Regions from separate parts of the Homo sapiens genome. Here region 2 is linked to region 1. The links come from fine-mapping of genetic effects on gene expression. A gene starts in region 1. The other region holds a variant in brackets. All regions are shown on one strand. Distances are from middle to middle. Region 1 holds the start of SCUBE1 (signal peptide, CUB domain and EGF like domain containing 1). Region 2 overlaps SCUBE1 (signal peptide, CUB domain and EGF like domain containing 1).

Region 1 (2,892 bases):
TTGACTCTGGTTTGCTTATGCTGGGGACATGCTGCTGGGGTTTCACAGTCACAGGGCTTCCACGGAGAGGGTCGTGGAGGAGACAGAGTCAGATACAGAGAGACACGAGGAGGGACACAGGTGGGGATAGGCACGCCCAGGAACAGTCACTCAGAGGTGAGGGACCCCAAAGCTTGGGAGAGACACCCACAGACACAAGGGGGATGATGGGGCAGCAGGGCTGGGCTTCCAGGAGGGGTGTTGCTGTGGAAGAGTCTCACAGGCCCAGCATCCTCACTCGGGGCACGCGGGACCACCAGGAATAGACCCTACGCCACCCATACCAGACCTCAGGAAGCCGGGAAGGACGTGCAGGACCCTCCCCCTGCCTCCCCCTCCAAGCAGAGCACCGGAGGAAGCGCCTCTGATGACGAGGAGGGGAGAATGTGACTCCAGCTTTTCGGGAAGCCCCTGAAGACAGAGAGCAGGAGGGGACCGGGTGGGAGGGTGGGGGGGTCCCCGTGAAACCCACGGGCCTGGGCCTGTGGCCTCCGGGTCTCCCCCTCCCCTTCCTGGGTCTGCTCCACCGACGTCCCGCGTCCGGACTCTCCTCCCTGTGTCTGTCCTCCGGATCCTCTGCCTTCCTTCCCTCTGTCTTTCCTCCCCGTCCTGTCAGACGGTCCCGGTCCCTCGTCTGCGGCTTTCCAGGTATCTCTGTCCCTCTCTCTTTCCCGGTCTCCCTCTCACCGCCCCCCCCAACCCCGTTTTTCTGCGGCGTCCATCTGTCCCCCGTCTCCTCCTCTCTCTCTCCCTTATCATCGGTGGGACCATCCCTCTTGATTCCCCCTGATCCACCGGCCTCCTCCTCCTTCCCCGGGCGGTGCGGGCCTCCTCTCTACCCTTCCGCATCTGTCTTTTCTCCGGGCTTCCTTTTGTCTGCTCCCTCGGCGCCGGCTCTTCTGTCCGTCTGTCCCGCACCTCCCGCCCCGTCCCGGTCTCTCGGTCCGTCCCTTTCCCCGTCCACCTCCTGGCGTGTCCCCCTCCGCCCGCCCCGCCCCGCGCCCCCTCTCCCAGGAGGAGCGCCCCTCTGCGCTCGGGGTCCCGCCCCGCCCAGGTCCGCACGCGGGGTCCCCGGGAACCGCCGCCTTTCTTCCTCGCTCCCGCGCTCGCGCTTCCCCTCCCGGGGCCCCGGCCCACCCACCCCTGGTGCGGCCCCGCCGGACTCAGGAGCCCCGGCCGCCCGGGCTGCGGGGAGGGGGCGCCCCGGGCCGGCCCTAGAAGTTACTTTGCAAAGAGGCAGGGGGCGCGGGGCCGCGCGGGGCGAGCTCGGGATCCGCGGGGAAGAAGCCCTCCGGGACCGCGCCTCGGCCGCCCGAGCCCCCCGCGCCCGCCGCCCCCCACCTCGGTCGGGGGCTTACCTGGGAGCCCGCTGCCCCCGGCCAGCCGCCCGCGTGTGCCCAGGGCCAGCAGCACGCACAAGTGCCAGCGCACGGCCGCCGCGCCCATGCTCAATGCGGGCCCCGCTGGGCGTGCGGGCGTGCGGGGCGCGGGGACCCGACCGACCGGCCGCTCCCGCAGGCGCTGCTCGCTGCTCGCCGCTCCGCCACCGCTCGGGCTCCCGAGCCGCCCAGCCAGCCCGGCTGATGAGCTGACAGCGCGCGCTCATTGGCCCGTGGCGTCGGAGGGGCGGGGCGTCGCCCAGGGCCGGCCAATGGGCGCCGGCCTCCGGCCCTCCGAGGAAGAGGGGGGCTCGGGCGTCGTCGGGGGGACCCTTCCCCTGGGGCGGGCGGCAGGTGGGGGGTGTGGGCCTGGCCGGCCGGCTCGCTAGGCGCGGGGTCTAGGCCAGGCTGGGGCTGCTTGGAGGCTGCGCCCTCCCCTGCCCGCGGCGCCCCGGCCCCCGCCGTCGAGAGTGGACGCCCCTCTGGGGTAACCCCTCCCGGCCCAGAGGCAGCCTCGGGGGCGGGGATCCTGCGAACCGGGGATCCCGTGAGGTCGCCCGCCATCCGTGGGCAGTGAAACGCGCCAGCGCGCAGAGCAGACTCGCCTGCGCTGCCGTTTGCTGGACGTTTCTTGAGCACCTACTGGGGACCGAGTGCGGGCGAGGCAGCAGCGAAGGAACCGGGAGGGGAAACCTCGTGAAGATCACTTGAAAATTGACGTTCAAAACAAACGAACTTTTTAGCACTCGTCAAAGGACAGTGGCCCGTCAGTGTGCTTGTCACGGGGCGGCCGCAGGACCTGCGTCTGGAACCGGGCGGGCGCCCGGGACGGACAATGCCGCTTGGCGGTCGGTCCCGCGGGAGGCCCCCGCACGGGGCTAACCTCGGCCGGCGAAGTTCGCTGCCCGGAATGCGAGGCCGAGGCCTCCCCCTGTGACAGACCGGGCGGGGCCAGGAGGAGGGGCAGGGCGGGCATCCCGGTCCGAAGACCCAGGAACTGCTCTGGCCTGGCCTGGGGTCTACACCTGACGCCTGGCGAGGGTTGGCTTCGGGTCTGGTCCCACCGGGCCTGGGAGGGACGGGCGGCTGGAAATAAATGGCCCCTCTCAGTTCCAGGCAGGACGCTTTAAGGGACGAAAGTTCAGCAAACCCCAAGGCCCATCTCCTTGACAACCACCAATAAGAGCTCCTTTTTTCTTCTCCTGCTCTCCAGGCCCAACTCAAAGACAACTCTTTTCTCTTTTTGTCCACTCTGCCTGCACCAGTTTGAGCCCCTCCACACCAGCTCCCTTTCCTGCCCCCAACACACACACGCACACACACACACACACACACACACACACACACACACACAGTCACACATGCAGACACATGCTCTCACGTGCAATCACTCAGACACAGCCTCACACCCTCACACCCTCCAGCACACACACGCTCACACATGCTTCTTCACGCCCTCATCCAACCTACCGTA
Region 2 (2,892 bases), 45 kb before region 1:
CTTTATTTATGACCACAGCTAAATGTTCCCAGAAGGCACGGAGCTCCTCAGCACAGCACAGGGACTTAGCTACAAAGAGACAGGAGGTCCCCTGGGCTCTGGGGCAGACTCTAGGAGGCTCCTTTCAGGAAATCCTTTCAACTGGTGAGAGAGACGGGGGAGGTAGAGTGGAGAGCGGGCCCTCCATGCCCGGTCCTGGGAGGAGCCTTTCACAGCTGTCTGGACCGGCGTGGTTGAGGCTGGAAGGCACTGGTCCACAGCCTCTTTTGATGTACAACTGTATCTGTGATTGTGCCATCGAACCGCCGGAGCCCTTCCCTCTTCCGGGCCAAGGCTGAAATGGCAGGCAAGGGAGCTGGGAGGAAGAGAAGGTGGAACCTTGGTGGGCCGTGCCACAGGGGCCTTCAGCAGGTGGGGCTGGGAGACCCCCTCGGAAAAAGACCACTCCAGTGAGGTATGGGACAAAAGACAGGGAGCCTGAAGGTCCTTGAAGGCTGCTCCCCGTGAGCTGTGAACTCCCATTCCTTCAGCCCGCAGAGCTGGGGGAGGTCAGAGGTGGGAGAAGGGAAGGACAGGAGTCAAGAAAGGCTGAGCATTTGGAGCACAAAAGAGGGGCCTCACTGGTCAGGGTCTGGCCCTCGTCCCACCCAGCCACCAGGCCTGAGGACCCTGTTGTTCTCGAAGCCCCTTTCTTCTGCCCCTCTCCCAAGGGTCTGACCAAGGCTGCTGACTTTTTCCACGCCACCTTGCCCGTCCATCTCCCTGGCTCCCATGAGACAGCCCTGGCTTGGACCTCAGCTTCCTCTTTGGGGTAGGCTGCACACTTCTCCTGGGTCTCAGCCTCCAGCCTCTCCCTCCCAATCCCTTCTCCATGGGCAGTGGCTGCTGTGATGAGTCTGGCTGGAACAGGACATGGCACCTTGGTCCCACAGGGTCTCTGGGGTCAGGTCCCACCTCCTCACTGTGCAGTACCCAGCATGAGCACAGCTCTGGAGGCCGGGGTGGCGGCGGACGGCCCTCAGCTGTGACTCTTGCCCATCTCCACTCGGTCCTCACAGGCGCAGGCCACCTCCACCTGCTGCCAGCCACTGAAGGGTGATGTGTGGGAGGGGACCCCTGTGCTGTGATTGACATGGTTGTTTTCCAGCAAGAAGAATTTCCAGAGCTGACATCAGCAGGCCATAGGTTGACCCGCTTCCGAAAGGCCTCTGCAGGCAGGACCAGTTTCCCCGGGAGGTGTGCTTCTTGGCCCAAGATGCTGATGTTTGTTTTTATTAATAGCTGGCTGTT[T/C]GTTCTACTTTGGACCAAGAGTCCAGGTTCACAGTTATTTATAACAACTAAAAATTACTTCTGGATCCAGCTCTGGCTGCTTTGTGTTTCCCGCAAATATTTCCCGATTTGAAACAGAGACTCCGTGTTCTGCTTGGACCCACCCATGTTTTCATGGCTGTCAAGAGCCTACTGTGTGTCAGGCCCTCCACTGGCTCCGGTGTCCCAGCTCCCACGGAAGGTCTAGAAACAGAGGCAGAGGTGCCCAGCCCATCTTAGGAAGCGAACTCCACCTCCAGCACGGAGAGCTCCCACCTGGTCCCAGGGGGCTGAGGCCCCCACCGCCTGCCGGCTCCTTTCAGAAGGGCGGCTTAGGCAGAAAAGCCTCTTGGCTATCTAGCGGCTCTTGCAAAATTGCATTTGATGAGTTAAGTGTAAATAAATGAGAACCAGATGGATTAGATTTTGGGTAAAATACACACGGGTCTTAGAGCTTTGGGGCCTGGGTTCTGCCAGATCCAGAACACTCTCCGAGCTGTCAAGAGCTGCTGGCACAGGCGGCAGGAGGTATGCCTGGGGTCTCCCAGGACCTGTCTGCTTCCTGGTCTGGGCATCAGCTGAGGTCTTCCCTGGGGCTCCTGATTCCCCAGCAGGTTGGCCGTGTGCAGAAGACACAGAGCCAACCTCTTGGCCTGGGCCTGAGTCCAAGCTCAGGGTGGGAGATGAGGCGCATGAATGGTAAGGTCAGCTTTCCAGACCAGCAAGCTCACTGCTCACGTCCAAACCCAGCAAGCCAGCCCAGGGAAGGCAGAGGTGGTGAAGCCTGCTGGCCGCTGGGGTCTGCTCACTCTGCTCTCCGCAACCTGAGTCCTGCCTTCCAGCCCAGCCGCTGCCCTGCCGCCCCCTGCTGTGCATCTCTAGGGAAGGACGGGAGTCTACCGCCCAGTGCAGACCGCTGGCCAGTCCTCAAAGGGGTCTGCGTGATGCTGCCCTGTGACCACTGCCCATGGGACCTGGCTGTTGCTCTACAAGTCATACCAGATGGAGTACAAGATTCAGTGAGTCGACTGGGCTTGGTGGCTCACGCCTGTAATCCCAGCACTTTGGGAGGCTGAGGCGGGCGGATCACAAGGTCAGGAGATCAAGACCATCCTGGCTAACACGGTGAAACCCTGTCTCTACTAAAAATACAAAAAATTAGCCGGGCATGGTGGCGGGTGCCTGTAGTCCCAGCTGCTTGGGAGGCTGAGGCAGGAGCATGGTGTGAACCCGGGAGGCGGAGCTTGCAGTGAGCCAGACCGCACCACTGCACTCTGGCCTGGGGCGACACAGCGAGACTCCGTCTCAAAAAAAAAAAAAAGAAAAAAGATTCAGTGAGTCTTTGCTGGTCACTTGCTCTGTGACCTTGAGCAGGTCATTTCACCATTTTGGGCCTTGGTTTCCTTCTCTATAAAACAGGGATAAAAGTCCCTGAGGTGTTTGGGAGTCAAAGGAGGTGATGGAGGTAATGTACTCTGCACAGCGCCTGGCACACACAGACCACCACCGAGTGTGAGCAGGTGCAGCACGAAGCCGCTGCTCATGGCCTCAGGGAATCACGGGTACGAACGTACTCCAGTGACA

What was found. PIP is the estimated chance that this variant, and not a neighbour inherited with it, causes the effect.
Region 2: its variant is fine-mapped to the expression of SCUBE1 in aorta (GTEx, PIP above 0.99). The same link has a PIP of 0.9 or more in caudate, cerebellum, cerebral cortex, nucleus accumbens, prefrontal cortex and putamen.

Annotation. Positions count from the first base shown.
Region 1 is chr22:43,341,777-43,344,668 of GRCh38, forward strand. It overlaps SCUBE1 (signal peptide, CUB domain and EGF like domain containing 1), which reads right to left and starts at 1,596. Exons shown (of 22, transcript NM_173050.5): 1 at 1,398-1,596. The coding sequence starts at 1,485.
Region 2 is chr22:43,296,437-43,299,328 of GRCh38, forward strand. All of the region lies in intron 3 of SCUBE1 (signal peptide, CUB domain and EGF like domain containing 1), which reads right to left. Among named protein-coding and RNA genes, the nearest start is that of SCUBE1-AS1, 22 kb to the left of the region's middle. The variant T/C (reference allele first, on the strand shown) is at 1,291.